Homo sapiens: one gene and its partners. The protein of the gene in region 2 interacts with the protein of the main gene of each other region in a pairwise test. Each region holds a gene or a part of one and is shown on either strand. Other genes may lie near its edges.

The links. The genes of interacting proteins can lie anywhere in the genome.
Region 1: the proteins of HEY1 (region 2) and YTHDF1 interact in binary tests that used the Homo sapiens proteins (3 or more experiments, as listed by UniProt).
Region 3: the proteins of HEY1 (region 2) and PLEKHB2 interact in binary tests that used the Homo sapiens proteins (3 or more experiments, as listed by UniProt).

The regions. Positions count from the first base shown.
Region 1 is NC_000020.11:63,199,126-63,206,151, forward strand, and holds part of YTHDF1 (YTH domain-containing family protein 1), read right to left. Parts: intron 4,683-7,026; coding exon 3,162-4,682; intron 1-3,161.
Region 2 is NC_000008.11:79,764,746-79,771,584, reverse strand, and holds the start of HEY1 (hairy/enhancer-of-split related with YRPW motif protein 1), read left to right. Parts: upstream 1-3,817; 5' UTR 3,818-3,921; coding exon 3,922-4,010; intron 4,011-4,290; coding exon 4,291-4,366; intron 4,367-4,492; coding exon 4,493-4,576; coding exon of another isoform or gene 4,577-4,588; intron 4,589-4,852; coding exon 4,853-4,934; intron 4,935-5,109; exon of another isoform or gene 5,110-5,321; coding exon of another isoform or gene 5,322-5,382; intron 5,383-5,813; coding exon 5,814-6,397; 3' UTR 6,398-6,839. UniProt on the Homo sapiens protein: Transcriptional repressor which binds preferentially to the canonical E box sequence 5'-CACGTG-3'. Downstream effector of Notch signaling required for cardiovascular development.
Region 3 is NC_000002.12:131,122,316-131,129,341, forward strand, and holds part of PLEKHB2 (pleckstrin homology domain-containing family B member 2), read left to right. Parts: intron 1-1,254; exon of another isoform or gene 1,255-1,352; intron 1,353-3,437; coding exon 3,438-3,590; intron 3,591-4,368; coding exon 4,369-4,471; intron 4,472-7,026. UniProt on the Homo sapiens protein: Involved in retrograde transport of recycling endosomes.

The DNA.
Region 1 (7,026 bases), on a different chromosome or scaffold from region 2:
TGTTCTTCGAAGTCCTGAGAGAACCTTGAGAAAACCGCCCGGGGGCTCTACCAGCACAGGCGCACAACCCTCTCCTCGGCACACTACTTTGTTCTTAAAACTGCACTGACTCGGCCGGGCGCAGTGGCTCACGCCTGTAATCCCAGCACTTTGGGAGGCCAAAGCGGGCGGATCACGAGGTCAGGAGATCGAGACCATCCTGGCTAACACGGTGAAACCCCATCTCTACTAAAAGCACAAAAAATTCGCTGGGCGTGGTGGCAAGGGCCTGTAGTCCCAGCTACCCGGGAGGCTGAGGCAGGAGAATTGTGTGAACCCAGGAGGCAGAGCTTGCAGTGAGCCGAGATCACACCACTACACTCCAGACTGGGCAACAGTGCAAGATTCTGTCTTAAAAAAAAAAAAAACAAAACAAAACTGCACTGACTCTTCATGGGAAACCCAGAGGGAGAAAGCATTAGACACCCAGAGTCTCAGCCTCAAGACACCTAAGACTCCAATCCTGGATGAGCCACTAGCCCAGCCCGTTAAGCACAAGGCCTAGAGCACCTTCGCAGGCAGGGAGAGCCAGCAGCGAAGTCCAGTCTGGGGACCTCCTCAAGGACCACTTCCATTTCTCTACACTGCCCAATAAGCTTAAAAGATATTTGACGCCGGGCACAGTGGCTCATTCCTATAATCCCAGCACTTTGTGAAGCCAAGGTGGGAAGACTGTTTGAGCCCAGGAGTTCAAGACCAGCCTGGGCAACATAGCAAGACACTGATTCTACAAAAAAATACAAAAATTAGCCAGGCGTGGTGGTGCACGCCTGTAGCTACTCAGGAGGCTGAGGCAGGAAGACCGCTTGAGCCCAGGAGGTCAAGGCTACAACAAGCTGTGATTAAGTCACTGCACTCCAGCCCGGCAGACGGAGAAAGACCTGTCTCAAAAACAAAAACAAAAAGCTATTTGAGGCGGGGCACGGTGGCTCACACCTGTAATCCCAGCACTTTGGGAGGCTGAGGTGGGCAGATCACTTGAGGTCAAGAGATCGAGACCAGCCTGGCCAACATGGTGAAACCCTATCTCTACTAAAAATACAAAATTTAGCTGGGTGCAGTGGTGGGCGCCTATGATCCCAGCTACTTGGGAGGCTGAGGCAGGAAAATGGCCTGAACCTCGGAGGTTGAGGTTGCAGTGAGCCAAAATTGCACTACTGCACTCCAGCCTGGCTGACGGTGAGATTGGCTCAAAAAAAAAAAAGCTATTTGAAATTCCACCAAACATTAACAAACCAGGTTCTCATTTGTCACTTTCAATAAAATGAATTAATGTTAACACTGACCCATATGGGCCCAGAGTTCTCCAGCTTGGCTAACAGTTTAGGGGAGGGTTACCAAGTTCCTTCCAATGATGCTCCACCAGCGGCTCTGTTGGACTCGCCTTGGAGCACCCAGTGGTTTGAGGAACACTTGGATCTTGCCTGCAGGCAGATGCCCACAGACCCTGCAGGCCGCTTACCAAGATGCTTAACCCATAACCCGACACACAAAAGCAGTTATCTAGATCAAGTTTTTATAATGCAAGTTGTAGGACACTAGAGTTTTAAAAACACCAACCAGGTCAGGAGTCCGCACACTTTATGAAAACCCAAGTATTACGGTATTTAAGAAGAAAAACTGTGCGCGCACACACACACAGCCAGCTTCCAGTTTAGCCAGCTAAGGACCTAAAGCTTCATTAGCAATTATCCCTGCAACTTTAGCAATTCAGTATTCATTTTATACCTAAAAGTCTGTAATCCGAGCTATTGTCTGTAATCCCAGCTACCTGGAAGGCTAAGGCAGGACAATCACTCGAACCCAGGAGGTGGAGGTTGCAGTGAGCCGAGATTGCGCCACTGCACTCCAGCCTGGGCAACAGAGCAAAACTCCATTTAAAAAAAAAAAAAAGACCTAAAACACAGAATTTCAGTAACTAATTCAGAATTCAGTAACTGGAAATAAATGACATCCACTTCTTTTCTCACAAAAGAGAGGGACTGATACTTTTCCAAAGTTCTACAAGCCCCAAGTTGTTCAGGACTTGCATAATGTAAGACTGCAGACAGTGCAGGCGGCTCTACTCTATACATCCCTATATATGCCATGTACACGCCTTTCTGCCCAAAATACATTAGGACACTTGGTGCTCACAGGTGAATAATTCCTTTAACATAGAGAACTGAAAAAAACACTGAAAACCCATCTATTATCAACTGACATTTCAGGAAGGGATATTTTTTAAAAAGCAGGAGAGAATCTCAGGATGAACTCTCTCGAATAAAGGAAGCATTATGAAGTATGTCAGCATCATCATTTTCCCATTGCTGGTGCCAGTTTACGGGCATCTGAGCCCTTCTGAAGAGCAAACACACTCAATCCCGTCAGACATCACATGACAGCACAGACTCAGGAGTTTGGCTACAAGTATCCCAGGAAATCAGGACTGTCTCAAAAAGGCCCAGTCAATGAATTTTTGATATAGGATCCATATTTGTCATTATAAAATGTCTGGATTCCAAACCTACCCCACCACCACCATTTTCTTTACGACCTAGATGGAGTGAGTTTGTTTCCAAAAACTGCAGGATACTGGGTTTTTAAAAGAAAAATAAAGCAACGACCTCCAGATCAAAGACCAGAGATTCCCAACTACTGAGGGACAGTGCCCTGGGAAGCAAGGGCCCTTGGCCAGGTGGGGTCTCGATGCCCTACGTGCCCACCGCAGTGCTTCGTGAATATCACCTAAGTGTTCCTCATGGACGGAGGCTGGGAAGCACTGTTCCAGAAAGTATCACAATTCAAAAAGGAGAGGAGAAAGTTACCCTCAAATTCTTTGTAACAGAAAAACAGAATGTGTACACTGTGGTCCCAATTATTCAATTATAATTGGAAAGTGATCAAAGTCGTTCGGTGACATCTACCCAAATACCATCACTGGTTACTAGCAGTACTCTCCGCAGGGAAAGCCCACGAGGCTGCCAGGACCTGGGCCCGCCCACCTGCGGCCAACTGGGAGCTGCCTGTCACGAGACTCAGCTCGGCGGACCTGCCGCATCTGCTCACCACCGGGCCACCTGGTCTAAGTACGGCACCAAGGACACATCTGCATGGCAGTTGCCTGCAACACCCAGCCTCACCTTGCGCACCACCTCCTCCTCCTCCTGGCGCTTCTCGTAGTGAGCAAAGTCGTCGAAGATGGAGGTTGTGTGCTTGTAGGAACTGATAATTTTCAGCACTTGCTTGGCTTTTTCTAAGGGCACCTCCTGGGTGTCCCGGGAGTTTGTGACCGGTTTGTTGTCGTTATTCTCCAGCCTGATGTGCCGGAGCTGGTTATTGGGTACATCCTTAACAAAAATCCACTGGACATCAAACTTCCCCTTCCACTTGTCCTGAGACCAGACCCCGGCACTGGTGCCGTAGTCCACGGGGGACTTCATCTCGGCCACCCCACAAAAATGCCCACTCCCATTGACGCTGAAGAGCAGGTAGACGGGCCCCTTGCTGCTCATGCAGCGGAAGGCGCTGTCCAGGCGCTTGTTGCCGTGCTCTGTGCTACACCAGATGGAGTACTTAATGGAGCGGTGGATGTCGTCCTCAGAGTAGCTCTTGATGATGAACACACGCCCGCTTTTCAGATTCCACTCAAACTCTTTCGGGTTGTAGCTGTGAGCAGCCTTCAGTTTTTCAAGGACGGGGTGGGATTCGACGCTGGGGGCAGAATTAGGCTGGACGTTTCCAGGAGAGTTGCTATCGCTGCCAGCCCCTCCGCTCTGCCCAAACGCCGCGTTTCTGTTGCGTGGGGCAACCCAGCGGGTCTGGGGTGGCTGCTGAGGGCTCTGATACTGCGGTTGAGCCAAAGCTGGGGGCTGTGCTGGGAGAGGCTGAGCCACCTGCTGGGGCTGTGGGGCAGCCTGTGGAGAGGGTGCCTGCTGGGGGACTGGGGCCTTCGGCACAGGCCCCTTGTTATCCCAGGTGCCAATGTCCATGTTATGCTTTATGGGTGGAGGGGGCAGCCCACCCCCCATGACAGGCCCGCTCTTTGTTTTCATTTTAGGCTGTGGTTTTGCAGGCTTGCTGGCAATGGCAGCCCACGAGGTCGGCTTTGAAACTGGCATGTTCACATTTGTCCCACCGTTGCCAGAAAGGACACCAGTCAGTGCCACGCTGCTGACGACAGAGCCCACCGTCTTGACGGCGGAGGAGCTGACGTCCCCAATCTTCAGGCCAACCATGCCCTGCTCCAGGCTGTTCATCCCGGGGGCCTTGCTGAGGGTGTCGCTGTGAAAGCCTGGCTGCCCATCAACCACCGTGCCACCCAGGGAGCTCGGGGGGTAGGTGTAGCTGCTCCCATACGCGGAGCTCTGGGTCTGCTGACCTTGAGACCCACTTGTCCCCCATGCTGAGAACGCAGGGTTTTCAGGGAAAAAATTGAACCTGTGCTGATAGATGTTGTTCCCCAGGCCCCCAGGCTGCCCAAAAACAGCATCGTGCATAAAATGATGGTCTCCGTTACTGAGCTGTCCGTAGGTGGTGAGGTATGGAATCGGAGGGTCCCCTGCAGTAGACCACGGAGCCTCATTGAGGGAGTAAGGAAATCCAATGGACGGCGGGTAATAGCTGGACAGGTAGGGGTCGCTCATTGAGGGGTAACTGTTACTCTGCAAAAGCAAACGTGACAAGTTACACCACTTCTACAACACGAGATGCTGAGAATGCCAACCGCCTCTTGCTTAAGCACAGGTGGAGCAAAAACAAAACCTGCACAGCATGGGGCTACTCCTTCCAGAAAGAAAGCTGTAGTCGCCAATGTGAGAACCAAATCAAGACAGAGAAATTAATAACGAACACAAACCAGGGTGCCGTCTCAAAATACGAAGCATCATTGGCAAGGCTCTGAATTCAGGCTAAATGACGAAGCTATGCCTCTCTAGAACTGGCAAGGTAGCAGCCCCCTCTACTCTTACCTGCAAAGGAATCCAGAGGTAGAGGAGTAAACCCCTGCCTGCTGACGACAACGCTTATGACAGACACGGACGGCATCATGGGAACTGAAACAGCTTTGTAAGGCAGAGATATTTCCATTGGCAAACCAGGATGTGCAGGGCCGTGAGGCAGTTTGCTCCAGAGAACAGACCCCAAGCTCGCTGATTACTCAGCAGGCCCTGGGCGCCCACCTCTGGGCCTTGACATTCCTCCTGGGACACTCTCCCATACCTGGACCAAAGCTCTCCCAGAATCCTTCAAGGGTGCTTCAGAGGCTCCTTCCACACACCCTTCCTAGCAGATGGCCCCTGCCTCTAAGTCCAAGGGGGTTCACATTCCCATGATTTCCTGGGCACAGCGTTGGGCTCTTGCAGTAGGCCCCTGCACAGAGGGCCCTGGCTGGCTCCAGCTCCTCAGCCAAGAGAAAGCATCCGAAGTGTGGACTCTGTGCTCCGGGTGCAGAGCAGCCCTCACTCTGGATGCCAACTCACCTGGGCTTCCTTATGAAAACATGTCTGTGTAGTGACTGGAACCTCAGAGAGTGGTTTTAAAGTGACGGAACCATGAGGCAAAAAGGTCTGCTAGAGAAGGTGAGTGCCTGAGTGCCCCATCGTAGGGGTCTCTGAAGAGCTGCCCAGGGCACAAATTTAGACTGAGGGTCAGCAGTTCTGGGACGGCATCTCCTTGGAGAGACTCAACTAAGGGTCTGGTCATGATTGGGTCCCTCCAACACTGCCTTAAAATGACTTTCGTGTGAGGTGTGTCTGTATGTGTGTGCGCACACACACCTGTACACAGGCCGGTGAGACGGGGTCCAGTGTGAGGTAAGAAGGCTCCCACCTAGACGCATCGTCTGAGAGTGCCAAGATGCTATTACAGAAAACAGAGCCGGAAGTAAAACACGGGGCTCTCCAGTCTGTGACGCCCGTTTTTGGATTTTTAGTTTTCCCGCTCCCCGCCCCCCAGTCCCCCAAGTAACCAGAAGGTTCTACATAAAGAGAATATGCTCCAGACCTCATCTCACAACCTCATCCCTGCCACATTGACCTTTCATGTTGGCATCAAAGGCTACACTATGAAGGATAACAGCACCCAGTCGGGGACACCAGGTGGGAAAGTAGCTGAGGCAATGAGGGAGACTGTGGGATCCCAGACAATGAAACAGGCCTGCTTCACTGGAGGGGTGACCACAAGCAGCTCTCCCTGGGGGCAGTGCCCCAACACCAGCCAACACTGGTGGACTAATGAACCAATGACCCGGCCACCACTTCCTGCCTCCTGCTCCCATCCTAGAATACTGAGGGCTTCAGAAATCCAATTTATTTTCTAATTTTCTTCCTGTTGACTTCTCCACTTGTGAGCAGACAATTCCAGAACCCCCCCCTTTTTTTTTTGGGACGAAGTCTCACTTTGTCGCCCAGGCTGCAGTGCAGTGGCACGATCTCAGCTCACTGCAACCTCCGCCTCCCAGGTTCAAGCGATTCTCATGCCTCAGCCTCCCAAGTAGCTGGGATTACAGACACCCACCACCACACCCGGTTAATTTTTGTATTTTTAGTAGAGACAGGATTTCATCATCTTTGCCAGGCTGGTCTCGAACTCCCAACCTCAGGTGATCCACCCGCCTCGGCCTCCCAAAGTGCTGGAATTACAGGCATGAGCCACAGCGCCTGGCCCCAGAATCATCTTTTAAAATGCACTAACTGCTGTTTCCCCGTAATATAAATTTGAGATTCTGGGGGTATAAGAAGACAAGTGGGATGCTATCAGTGTTCCACAAACATGAGATTAATCTGAGCTTATTCTCCCTCAAAACAGTTTCCATGATGCTGGCTCCTTTGCTGCAGCCTTTCCCTCGGGTGCTGCCCTGGCCAACAGGCCCAGACTGGGGGGGTGAGCGAATCAGGGGGGCGGTCTGTGCACAGGACTTGCTCCTCGAGTCACTGGCCGCAGGTGCCTTCAAGGACGGCAGGCAAGGGGACAGTCCCCCCCACAGGGAAGCCAGCCCTCCTCCTCCCA
Region 2 (6,839 bases):
AAAGCAGCCTGCGGAACGGTAAGCTAAGTAACTGAACCCAGACTCTACAAACCAGGCAAGAAAATAGGCCTTTGAGCGAAATAAAAAAGGGTGATTCTTCAGGAGAGACGAATTATAAAAGGCAACACTTGCCCACTTCCCCACCCCCAAATGGTAAAAGGTCCTTTTCCTGAGGGGCCAGGCCTGGGCAGTCCCATTTAAGTTGCAGAAGGGGTCAATTTGCAGGACGTACCTTTCATTCAGGGTAGCAAAGATGTTTAAAGTCGTTCTTCACTCAAAGCCTCCAGGGGTAAATCCCTTCTACACAGCAGATGGGAGAAAATTGGGCCTGGTGCCCTCAGTGTAACTCTCTCCTCTGATCCCACCACTCAAGGAAGAGGTCTCCGCCCCTTCCTTCCCGGTTATTACTGAACCACCTAGTTCACCTCTTCTTGATCTTAAGTCCCTTCCAAACTCAGAACAGGCCTTCCCAGACCTCATAAAGAATCCTCACCCCCTCGTTTTTCCTTACCAACAAGTGCTTCCAAGCACTGGAGCATCCATAACTACTTTACTGTGTATTCTCTGTCTTCTCCCTAGGATGTGAGTTCTAGGAGTGCAAGATGGATGACTTTTGGGTCACCTTTGTGTTTTCAGGCCCTAGCACAGCACATGGCACATAGAAGAATACGTATTTATTGGAAGCATTGAAAAATCAGTCAAACTTAAGAAGCAAGACAACCTCATTTGTAATTTTTTTAGAGACAGAGTCTCATTCTGTTACCCAGGCTGGAGTGCTGTGCAATGATCATAGCTCATTGTAGCGTTGACCTCCTGGGCTCAAGCCTCGGCCCCCAGAGTAGCTAGGACACAGGCCACCATGCCCGGTTCATTTTTAAATTTTTTCTAGAGATGGGGATCTTGCCGTGTTGCCCAGTCTGGTCTGGCACTCCTGGCCTCACGCAAACCTCCCACCTCAGCTTTCTACGAAGCTAGGACTACAGGTGCATGCCATGCCTGGCTAATTTTTAATTTTCTTTTTTAAGAAATGGGGATCTTGCTATGTTGCCCAGGCTGATCTGGAGCTCCTGGACTCAAGCAATCCTCCTGCCTCAGCCTCTCAAAGTGTTAGGATTACAGGTGTGAGCCACTGCGCCTGGCCGTAGAGAACCTCCTTTTTGACATAAAAGTAATCATGAACATGTGAGCAATATTTCATTTGGATGCCAATGTAGAGTTAAGCATCCCTAACCCCACCCGGTCTCGTCTCACTCAACATCTGCAGCTTGTCCACGCCTCTCCACAGCAGCAGAAATGAGCCAAAGCAGGAAAGGCTGACTCATTGTAGGTGCCAGAGGCTGGGAAAATCTATAGAGCCAGAGGGGAAGTAGACACGTTGGTTCTGGGGAAGGGTGGCCTGTCACTTTGGGGAAAGAAATGGAAGGTCAGAGGGACTTCTGGAAGGCAGAGGGGAGCAGGTGGGATGGTTTCCTATGCCTGGACCATCAGTTTCTGGGAGGGAAGAGGCAGGAAGTAGTGATGGATGCCCTGGACTGAAGACTGGGAGGGCCAGGAAGGAGCCTTAAAATTTGCACTTCCAGAGAGAAAGTCGGCTGGTGGGATTGACCTCGGACTGACAACTAACAGGCAGCATGCGGTGGAGTTTCAGGAAGCCAGAGGTCTGGGGTGCCAGCAGCAACAAACCCAGGCTGGCTGATGGAAGGGCCCAGCCTAGACAGGGAAGCAGAGGGGCTGCATGGAAAGGCTCAGGGCTGGAGGTGATGTGAAGTGGAATAAGCTTCAGTGGGAGCCAGGAGGTTGTATTTCCCGTTGGGGGCGGTGGTGGAGGGATGGGGGTGCCCAGAGAGGAACTATGGATTAGGCCCAGGCCGGCCACTCAGAGTGCTTGGCATCCAGGATGTGTTAAGATGGCATTGAGGCCGAGCGCGGTGGCTTAGGCCTGTAATCCCAGTACTTTGGGAGGCCAAGGCAGGCGGATCACCTTTGGTCAGGAGTTTGAGACAAGCCTGGCCAACATGGTGAAACCTCGTTTCTACTAAAAATACCAAAAACAATTAGCTGAGCATGGTGGCGCGCGTCTGTAATCCCAGCTTCTGGGGAGGCCGAGGCAGGAGAATTGCTTCAACCCGGGAGGCGGAGGTTGCAGTGAGCCGAGATCGCGCCACTGCACTCCAGCCTGGGCGACAGAGTGAGACACCATCTCAAAAAAAAAATAGCATTGAGATCAATAAGGAAGTCTAGAAACCAGGAAGCTTTTTGCAAAGAGAAAACGCCTTTTGTTATTCTCACCGATGGATATTAAGCTTTCCCTCACAGACAGGACTACAAGCTTCAGAGTGGATCTGAGATGAATGCGAATTGCTGTGTACCTTTGTAAGGGACAGAAGACCGGATTTTCAAATTTAAAACAACCATTCTGTTTCTGGAATCAGAAATCAGTTTCGAGATTTACAACTGTATTTTTTAAAAAATCTGTCTTCTTAGTGGACTCGGGGGGGACTTCACGTGGCACCCAGTACACGCCACGCCAAGCCACCGAAGCCAGAGGTGTGTGTCTGGGGCCAGAGACGTGCATTCCCTCAGCAAGGCCGGCCTCAGACGCAAACGCCAGCACCGCCACCCTGTCGCCCGCTGAGAGGATCTGGCCGCCGGGGGGAGGGGGCGGGGGGGGGGGCAGCGGGGGAACAACAAAAAAATCCCAGCATAATGATTATTCCCAGGGACCGTTGGGTTTTTTTTTCCCCAAGGCGGCCGAAAAAACAAGTGCTCCCCTTCCCCGGAAATGAGATGCACAGGGGTATTCATTCCATTCCGCGGCTGGGAAGCCCCTGCGGAAACGAGTCTGGCTGCATGTGCGGCCTCGGTCCCAGAAATCAAAAAGAGCGTCCCCTGAGCCCACAGCTTGCTCCTCCATGTGACCGGCCCCTGGGCTGGTGGCCACTGTGGACGCGCCCGGCGCCCCCTCTCCCGGCTCCCTGCGGGTTCCGCGGAGCCGCCGGCGCGCAGCCCGGCCAGGTGCACCCGGCACGGCCCCACTAACAGCGCGCGCCTCCAGCCGCCGGGCACTGGCGGCCACGCGGGCGAGATTTACGGTGGCGCTAGGCGGCGGCTTCCGAGGCCGGCCGGCGCCCAGGCTCCGATTACAGGTTCACACTGGGGGCCCGGCCGGCGGCCGCCCAGCCCCCGCCGGCGCGCCCTCGCGCGGCCCGGCTCCCCGCCTGCCCATTCTTCTCCATTCATGCGGACGCCCAGCGCCGCCGCCGCCGCCGCCAGCGCGGCCGCCGCCGTCGCCGTCGCCGGCCGCCCGGATTGGCTGGCGGCCGCGGCGCCGGCACTTTCCCACGGCCCGCGGCGCGTGCGGCTCACCGGAGGCGCTGCAGGCTCGGCCCTGGCGCGCGGCCAGGCCAATCGGGGCGCGCGGGGCGGGGAGGAGCCGCGGCCGCCGGCGGGCTTGTGTCCCGGCCCGGCCTCCCGCGCCTCCCCGCCGCCCGCGCCTCCTCCTTCCCCTGAGTGCAGGCTGGACAGAGCCCCCGCGGAGCCGACGCACCGCCGCCGGGCAGGGGCGGGCGCGGAGGGCGGGGGCGCGGTCCGCTAGAGCCCTCGGCCTCGCTCCCGCCCCTCCCCGGAGCGGCTGCCAATCAGCGGCGCGAGAAACCGGATTGGCCGGGGGGCGGCTGTTGCCCTGGAGTTGCCGCCCCGCCTCTCCGCCCCCTCGCCCGCCTTCCCCACTCCCCCGCCCTCCCCAGGGCCCTGGGAAGGGGCTCAGCGTGGGAAAGGATGGTTGAGTTTTAACCAGAGGCAAAGCGTGAGCGGGATCAGTGTGTGCGGAACGCAAGCAGCCGAGAGCGGAGAGGCGCCGCTGTAGTTAACTCCTCCCTGCCCGCCGCGCCGACCCTCCCCAGGAACCCCCAGGGAGCCAGCATGAAGCGAGCTCACCCCGAGTACAGCTCCTCGGACAGCGAGCTGGACGAGACCATCGAGGTGGAGAAGGAGAGTGCGGACGAGAATGGGTGAGCTGGCGGCGGCGGAGCGGAGCCGAGCCAGAGCGGGAGGCGAGCGCAGGCCTGCCGCGGTGACAGCGGGCTAGGACCCTTGGCGCGCCGGTGCCCTGCGCTGACCTCCGCGCGTCGCAGGCTGGCGGCAGCCTGCGGCCAGGGAACCCCTAGGTGCCTTCCAGCCCAAGTGGCAAAAAAAGTCTGAGTGCGGGGAGGGTGTGGGGGCGACCTCTCAGATCACCTCTCCTCGTTTAACGGCGATTTCAGTTTTTGTTTGTTCTTTTTCTCTTTTCAGAAACTTGAGTTCGGCTCTAGGTTCCATGTCCCCAACTACATCTTCCCAGATTTTGGCCAGAAAAAGACGGAGAGGAGTGAGTCTCTTTACACTCTCCTTTTATTTTTGTTATTGATTAACGGAAATAACCACCTTTTTTTTTGTCTTTGAAATTTACAGTCGTAATGGTAATGCCTTCCTTTGTTTTGCTTGCCTTCTGCAGATAATTGAGAAGCGCCGACGAGACCGGATCAATAACAGTTTGTCTGAGCTGAGAAGGCTGGTACCCAGTGCTTTTGAGAAGCAGGTAATGGAGCAAGTAGGTAAAGCTCTCAGCATAGCTATCTGCACCTTCTGAATCTTCCCCTCATTAATCTCATCCGCCTTGGAAAATAGCTGTGTTGCTTGTGCCTAGATGAATTCGTACACAGATACCAGCGTATTTTGTGAAGACAACTGATTTTGCTTTAGTCCATGCTTTACGATTTACAAAGCATGTATCTTTGTATATATGTTTGCATATTTTAAATTGTTCCCCAAAGGAACTTGTGCCAAATCAATCTTTTGCCATTCTCATCTTTAGGGATCTGCTAAGCTAGAAAAAGCCGAGATCCTGCAGATGACCGTGGATCACCTGAAAATGCTGCATACGGCAGGAGGGAAAGGTACATCTCCTAGACCTAGTGGGGGCTCTGAATGGTTGGCAAAGAGTGAGCAGCGGCTGAAGGCCAGGATTGGTGCAGTAGCTGCCTGATTTTTCTTTGGGGGTGGGGAGAGAACGGTGTGTGGTGTGTGCAGTTCCCTGTCAGTACATTTTCGAATGCACATAGAATCTTCTCCAGTGAATTCACCACCCCAGCTCTCTGCGGATTGAGCTAGTGCATCTTTTGGAAAAATACCTATTATTTGTGAGGTCTTCAAAAGTTGTGACAGCCCTGATTCAGATCAGGTAGCTTTCACATTTGTCCATTGCTATTTTGAGAAAAAGCATTTAAAAACAATATGTGGTCTTATTTTTGGTATACGGGATTTTAAAAAAAAGGTGCTGCCACATGCCTCTTGAGGAAAGAAATGTATTCTGGTTAAGTAAAGGAAACCTAACGGGAGACCAAGGTCTGTGTGTATGTCTCTCCAGCAGGAAAATGCTTTACTGAGGTCCAAGTGCCTAAAAGCTCCGCGATGATAACTTACATCTGTGTGTCTAATGAATTTCACTGCTCTGTGGTTTCTCTGCCCTTGATGTATTTTTTGTTGTTGTTGAGGGAAAACATTAAAGGAATGAACATAGTTTCATCTGCTGGTAGGGTATAATTCCAATTTCTGCTCTGCAGCTTCTAATTGGGCTTTGAACTTGCATTAGCAAACACATTCTGCTTATGTTGATTAATGCAAAGATTTTTGTTGATTCCAAAGACTTTCGGAAGAACCCCTGACTGTTGTGTTTTAAGGGATGCAGGTATCTGCCAGGAAGGGCTGTCTCTGGGACTTAAGAAATGAGGGAAACGGGCAAAGCCCTGAGATTTTTCTTTTGTTCTTTTGCTTAGGTTACTTTGACGCGCACGCCCTTGCTATGGACTATCGGAGTTTGGGATTTCGGGAATGCCTGGCAGAAGTTGCGCGTTATCTGAGCATCATTGAAGGACTAGATGCCTCTGACCCGCTTCGAGTTCGACTGGTTTCGCATCTCAACAACTACGCTTCCCAGCGGGAAGCCGCGAGCGGCGCCCACGCGGGCCTCGGACACATTCCCTGGGGGACCGTCTTCGGACATCACCCGCACATCGCGCACCCGCTGTTGCTGCCCCAGAACGGCCACGGGAACGCGGGCACCACGGCCTCACCCACGGAACCGCACCACCAGGGCAGGCTGGGCTCGGCACATCCGGAGGCGCCTGCTTTGCGAGCGCCCCCTAGCGGCAGCCTCGGACCGGTGCTCCCTGTGGTCACCTCCGCCTCCAAACTGTCGCCGCCTCTGCTCTCCTCAGTGGCCTCCCTGTCGGCCTTCCCCTTCTCTTTCGGCTCCTTCCACTTACTGTCTCCCAATGCACTGAGCCCTTCAGCACCCACGCAGGCTGCAAACCTTGGCAAGCCCTATAGACCTTGGGGGACGGAGATCGGAGCTTTTTAAAGAACTGATGTAGAATGAGGGAGGGGAAAGTTTAAAATCCCAGCTGGGCTGGACTGTTGCCAACATCACCTTAAAGTCGTCAGTAAAAGTAAAAAGGAAAAAGGTACACTTTCAGATAATTTTTTTTTTAAAGACTAAAGGTTTGTTGGTTTACTTTTATCTTTTTTAATGTTTTTTTCATCATGTCATGTATTAGCAGTTTTTAAAAACTAGTTGTTAAATTTTGTTCAAGACATTAAATTGAAATAGTGAGTATAAGCCAACACTTTGTGATAGGTTTGTACTGTGCCTAATTTACTTTGTAAACCAGAATGATTCCGTTTTTGCCTCAAAATTTGGGGAATCTTAACATTTAGTATTTTTGGTCTGTTTTTCTCCTTGTATAGTTATGGTCTGTTTTTAGAATTAATTTTCCAAACCACTATGCTTAATGTTAACATGA
Region 3 (7,026 bases), on a different chromosome or scaffold from region 2:
CTACCATGTCATTTATGATTCTAGTCAAAAACTGAGCTGTATCACATACCATTGATTGTTCAGAGACTTGAGTTTATCTATGAGGGTTACTTTCAGAAATTTAGCTAAAGTCAAGTCTACCAGTAAGAATTGATGGCATACCTGAGATGGTTTATCAAAACTATTGTTTACGAATTGTTTGTGTTCCTGTTAAATAGATTTTATGTATATATTCTTAATTCTCACAACAGCTGTATGAGAGGTAAGTGGTATTATTTCCAGTTGAAGAAATTGAGATTCAGTGAGGTTAGGTACTTGTCTAAGTGTGAACTGTGGGTGACAAACCTACATTCAAAGTCAGGACTGTGTGATTTCAACACTGACATTATATGCACCCAGAGACCGGTCTTCAGCCTGTGTGTCTGTGACTAGTTCCATGTTCCCAACCTGGAGCTGAACTGTATGTCCCCTTGTCTGTTAGTCCTGTAGTCTTAGAATAGACAAAGGTGTCGTAATGTTAGCTTCACAAAGAAAGTCCTGGCTTGTTGAAGTCTAGCCCAAGTTTCCTAGTCTTGGGTTTTGCGGTCTCAACGTCCCCATGGTCAGGGGACATGGGGACCCTTGCTCAGACCTTGAGGGTGTGCCCTCCTTTGGCCCTTTGGATGTCCTTTGCCACACCCTTGTTTGAGGGCAAGCTTTCCCTTTTCCACCACAACTTGAAGTAAGTGCTCTGTCAACATAGTGATCAGTGACTCTTTTGACAATTTTGTCCTCCCCATCACGCCTAGCATGGTGATGTACACAAAATAGATGTACTTTAAATAAGTCACATAGACTTTTCCAGTGTTCTGGTCCATGGGTGTTTCAGAAGTGTGTATTCAGACGATTTACTCTGTATATAACCCCATCCCCATATGTATGGGTTAATTTTCCTTCTTTCCTGAAAGTAGAAGTATCAATGCCAGTAAAACGAGGTGAGATACATTATATTCACGGGGTTGTAGAGCAGCAGAGATACACATGTGATGTGGTCACAGGTAGGCAAAGCCAGCCTTGGGACTTATTTTCCTGCCATTGCCACATGTACTGTTGGGACCCAGTCCTGGCCTCTGGAGGACAGCCTGACTTGGGAGTCTGCAGCCAGGGCTTTGATGGCAGGTGAGATACTTGGGCAGAACTCCCTGACCCAGTGGTTCCACCTGTCTCTGTGTTTCTGTGGCTCTATTTAGTAGGGCTTTTTGTTTGTTTGAGACAGAGTCTTGCTTTGTCGCCCAGGCTGGAGTGCAATGGCATGATCTCAACTTACTGCAACCTCTGCCTCCTGGCTTCAAGCAATTTTCCTGCTTCAGCCTCCTGAGTAGCTGGGATTACAGGTGTGCGCCACCATGCCAGGCTAATTTTTATATCTTTAGTAGAGATGGGATTTCACCATGTTGGCCTTGCTGGTCTTGAACTTCTGACCTCCTGGTCCACCCCCCCCACCCCCCCCCCCGCCCCCCGCCCTCGGCCTCCCAAAGTGCTAGGATTACAGGCATGAGCCACTGTGCCTGGCTTTTTTTTTTTTTTCTTTTTAAGACAGGGTCTTGCTCTGTTGCCTAGGCTGGAGTGCAGTGGCGTGATAACTGCTCACTACAGCCTTGATCTTCCAGGTTCAGGTGGTCCTCCTGACTCAGACTCCCAAGTAGCTGGGACTGCTGGCTTGTGTTAGCATGTCTGGCTATTTTTCTCTTTGTAGAGACGGGATCTTGCTTTGTAGTCCAGGCTGGTCTCAAACTCCTGGGCTCAGGTGATCCTTCCACTTCAGCCTCCCAAAGTGCTGGAATTACAGATATGAGCCATTGCGCCCAGCCTATTTGGTAGTTTCTGCACAGCTCAGGTAGTCAAGTGGATGCTTGGGTATCACTTAGTGGTCAGTTAGGCAAGTGCAGTGGACACCCCTCCTGGTGAGGAGAGTGCCTGATACTACTGGCAGGAAAGCCGAATGGCGCATATCTGGTTGACACCAGTTGCAGGCACGGCAACATAAAGGGAAGTACACGAAATGGGATTGTGTGTGTTGGCCAAGAATGGGATGAGATGTACAGGAACAGAAGGTGTAGTGGGCAGTGAATGGATGTGAGGAAGGTAAAGAGATGACCGGAGCTACAACTGGCCTTTAAGTCCACTGCAGGGGTTTTCCCTTCATGCAGTCAAGGAAATTACTGTTTTATATACCAAGTTAAAGGAAATTACTGTTTTATATACCACGTTAAATACCTGGTCCAAGATCACAAATGAAAGGTTGAATTTGCTCAAGCTGACAGAAGTACGTGAGGTAGTAGGATGTGCACAGCATGGGAGGCCAGGCAGGGCCTGGTCTATATCCTGCTGTGCTCATTTATCCAGTGTATGCATCAGGAAGGGGGGAGCCTTCCACACTGTGGGCTTCTGTGGGAAATGGTAGGAAAGAGTATCTGTGAAAACTCTTAAGGACAAAGAAAAAAAACGTGTTTTTTCTTTTTTTTTTTTGGAGACGGAGTGTTGCTCTGTCCCCCAGGTTGGAGGGCAGTGGTGCGATCTTGGCTCACTGCAACCTCCACCTCCTGCGTTCAAGCGATTCTCCTGCCTCAGCCTCCCTAGTAGCTGGGATTACAGGTACGAGCCACCACGCCCAGCTAATTTTTTGTATTTTTAGAGATGGGATTTCACCATCGTGGCCAGGCTGGTCTCGAACTCCTGGCCTCAAGTGATCCATCTGCCTCGGCCTCCCAAAGTGCTGGGATTACACGCGTGAACCACCGTGCCTGGCCAAAATGTGTTTTTTCAAAAGAGAAAGATATTATTTTTATTTGCGTATAGAGACTTCACAGTCCAGCATTTTCTGATCAATCTGGCAATTTAGACAATATTTGGAAATTTAGAAAGTTGAAAAGTTTGAGAGGTTTAAAGTTTAGTACTGTATGAGGAATTAAATGTTAGATATGTTTCATTTGCTGAAAAGCAAGCTTTTTAATAGAAACCCTAACCGGAAAGTGTTGGAACTTCTAAGTTGGTTGGCAGCATTCTCTGTTGACAGTGTGTGCTGCATGCAGCCTGTTAAAGCACCAGTTGGCGGGCCCTGTGCTCTGCTTTCCCTTTCATTGTGAGGGACTGCTTTGGGTAATTCTATACAGGTGTAATTAAGGGGCCAGGGGAAGAGTTCTTTTTGTTTCTGCTGTGAATTAGAGGACTATGTCCTTGCTCTTTTGGCGCAAAGCCAACCTTTCAGATTTCTAAATTTTGAAGGCTGAGCATGGTGGCATGTGCCTGTAGTCGCAGCTAAACGGGAGGCTGAAATGGGAGGATTGCTTGAGCCCAGGAGTTCAAGGCTGCAGTGACCTATGATCATGTTTGTGAATAGCCACTGCATTCCAACTTGGGCGAAATAGTAAGACTGTCTCTAAAAAAAAAAAAACAACCGTACTATTTTTTTTTTCCAGGTACTATTTTGAAGCGCTGGAAGAAGAACTGGTTTGATCTGTGGTCGGATGGTCACCTGATCTATTATGATGACCAGACTCGGCAGAATATCGAGGATAAGGTCCACATGCCAATGGACTGCATCAACATCCGCACGGGGCAGGAATGTCGGGGTAAGCTGGCCTGTCTTGGCCAACTTCTGTCTTCTGCTCTTCCTCTGTCTTGCTGGGAGCTTGGTCCTCTTCCTTCCCTGTTCTGCTTTCATTAACAGATTGAAGAAGGGCTCCATCTCAGAGGGGCGACCACAGTGGGGCCCCAGGCACTTAGATTATGAACCACATGGTCGGGAAATATCAGTGTTCTCAGTCCACGTCCCTCGTTCTCGTGGAGAGGGAGCCAGAGCTCTGGGAACCTCAGGAAGCACAGGCCACCCTAGACTACGTTGATTTTGTACTCAGAAACTGGCTTCTGTTTGATGGTGACTCCAGTCAATTGCTTAAAATCTGGGATGTTGGCCAGGCATGGTGGCTCATGCCTGTAATCCCAGCACTTTGGGAGGCCGAGGTGGGTGGATCACGAGGGCAGGAGTTCAAGACCACCCTGGCCAAGATGGTGAAACCCCAACTCTACTAAAAATACAAAAAAATTAGCCAGGTGTGGTGGCAGGTGCCTGTAATCTGGCTACTCAGGAGGCTGAGGTAGAGAATTGCTTGAACCCGGGAGTCAGAGGTTGCAGTGAGCCGAATATATTTTGTGGACGTCATCTTGGCAGCTGGTCTTGTCAGTCAGCCTAGCTATGTTCTTTCTGCATTCTTGGAAAGGCAGAGGGTTCTTTCATAGATGTAGCACTTGATTTATTGTCTAGTCCTTTGCTTCTCTGAGCTGGTAGTTCTTAGAAAATGTAAGAAGAAATCCTGAAAAAAGTTCCTTTATTCTGCTTATTTTTCATAGATACTCAGCCCCCGGATGGAAAGTCAAAAGACTGCATGCTCCAGATTGTTTGTCGAGATGGGAAAACAATTAGTCTTTGTGCAGAAAGCACAGATGATTGCTTGTAAGTTTTGCTTTCTTATGTGTTTAATTTAAAAAGTATTTTCTATTTTAACTTCTGATTACCAAAAAATGAAAAGAAAGGGCGTGGAGTTTTCTTTCAGGCATCAGAATAAGGGACTCAGTGGATGTATGAGAGAAATGCAAGAGTCGCTTTTCCAATTCTAGTTTCTGCCTCTCTCAGACTGCCTAGGCCGATCCCATTGTGGTGAAAATGGCAGAAAGGAATAGCAGTCTCATCATGCTGTCTTTCATTATTAGATTCACAGTGGGTAACGGGCATAGTTGAAATAAAATGACCAGAAAAGCAAGAAAGTAAAGAGTAAGGAAACTGTCAGTTCCTAGGGCTGCTGTCACAAATTGCTGAACACTGAGTGACGGAAATGGCAGAAATTCATTGTCTCATAGTTCTGGAGGCTGGAAGTCTGGAATCAGTGTGTCAGCAGATCCTTGCTCCCTCTGAGATGCTGGGTAGGATCCTTTCTTGCCTCTTCCTAGCTTCTGGTGGTTGCTGGTAGTCCTTGGTGTTCTTTGGCTGACAGCCACATCACTCCGGTCTCTGCCTCTGTTGTCACATGGCCTTCTTCGGCTGTGTCTGTGTCCAGAATTCTCTTTTCTTATAAAGGACACCAATCATAATGGATTAAGGACCCACCTTAATTCACTATGACCTTATCTTAATTTGATTCCATATGCAAATATCCTATTTCCACATAAGGTCCCATTTGAGGGTACTGGGGATTAGGATTTATACATATCTTTTTCATGAGGACACAATTGAACCCATAATAGAGACTTTTGAGAAAGATGGTGAAATGGATTAGAGATCATCTTCCCTGAGGGGAAAACATTTCAATGGTGCAACCAAATAAAGAAGTTTGATCTCAAGCACAAACTACAAACAGTTAAAGAAAGAAATAGATGATTCTACTGAGATGTTCTTCAATCCTACCCGAATCCCAGAAGCAGTGACAAGATGAGTTAATTAAATCTTGCAAATTTTCAGTATTACCCTGTAATCTGGAGTGATGCTGATTAAGTGTAAGTTACTTTTTGGAAAAGCTAGGGAAAAAATCCTTAAGAATGTGATGTCCTTGGGGCCTCAGCAGAGGCTGGACGGTTCTCCCAGGACTCATCATTGCAGGGCAGTGAAAGGCACTGAAGCTCACAGGAGTTGGGTAATTTTCTGTCTGGTGAAGTGAGCCCTAGCATGGGACATTCAAAGGAATATGCTCAGAAGAGAGTGTAGGACCCAGAGTTTTCAGAAAAGACTTACTCGGTCTCAGAAGAAATGTCCTTCTCTTCTAGCCCTGTGCCCTCAGATTACAGAATGTTGATTGTGAGGGTAACACCTAGCCATCAAACTGTTGCTGGGCTGGACTGAGGTAGAACAGGGTGGAACTACCAGTTGATACCAGATTAGGTAGGAAGCGTGTCAAGGAGAAATAACTCATACTTTATGAGAGCAAACAGCAGTTTTAGATATCACTTCCCATGTTAAACGTGAGCAGGATGTAAAGAAGTGGCTTGGCAACTATGCAGATATACCATGAAGGAAAAATAAGAAAAGGAAAATGCAAGCCTCAGGAAAAGCTCCTAGAGTGGAGGAAAATAAAACCCAAGAAACAGGAGCAGAGTCTTCAGGAATGCTTTCCTGGCCACCATATTTAAAATTGTATCTCCCTGTCCCCATACACACTCACCATCTATCAACTATTTATCTTGTTCATCATCTGCTTTCATTAGAATATATGCTGTGTGAGGGCAGAGATTTATGTTTCTTTTCTGCTCTTTTGTGTCTGTAACTTAGAAGGTCTGTTGCTGTCAAGAGGGTGCCATTCACGTTATAATCTGAAGAAAGTGGTCTTCCCTTCAATACAACCCCAAATGAAAAGTGAATCATTGGCATGGAAGAAAAGACTGGAGATACTCTCAGTGACAGGAAAAAGATGAAAAGATCAGAGATATGTTAGACTAAAAAAAGTTCAGAAAGATTATTGATGTCCATAAAGTGTACAACCCAAAAGAGAGAATTACAAATCTAAGGCAAGAAAAATGTTCTGAAATAATCGAACTGAATTGGCAGACCAAAGTCCCTACTAGACTCTTCCACCTGATATGACAACAAAATCTATATAAGATATATGAATAATCCAGTATGATACCCTTTAGCAAAGTGAATGACAATGGTATGCCACATACAAAATCAGTTGGGGAATTTTGCAACTTAACTGCATTCCTTAGAAAGCTAGAACACTTGGGCTGGGTGTGGTGGCTCAAGCTTGTAATCCCAGCACTTTGGGAGGTCAAGGCGGATGGATCACCTGAGGTCAGGAGTTCGAGACCAGCCTGGCCAACATGGTGAAACCTCGTCTCTACTAAAAATACAAAAATTAGCCAGGCGTGGTGGCAGGCACCTGTAATCCCAGCTACTTGGGAGGCTGAGGCAGGAGAATGGCGTGAACCTGGGAGGTGGAGGTTGCGGTGAGCCAAGATCACACCACTGTACTCCAGCCTGGACAACAGAGTGAGACTCCATCTCAAAAAAAAAAAAAAAAA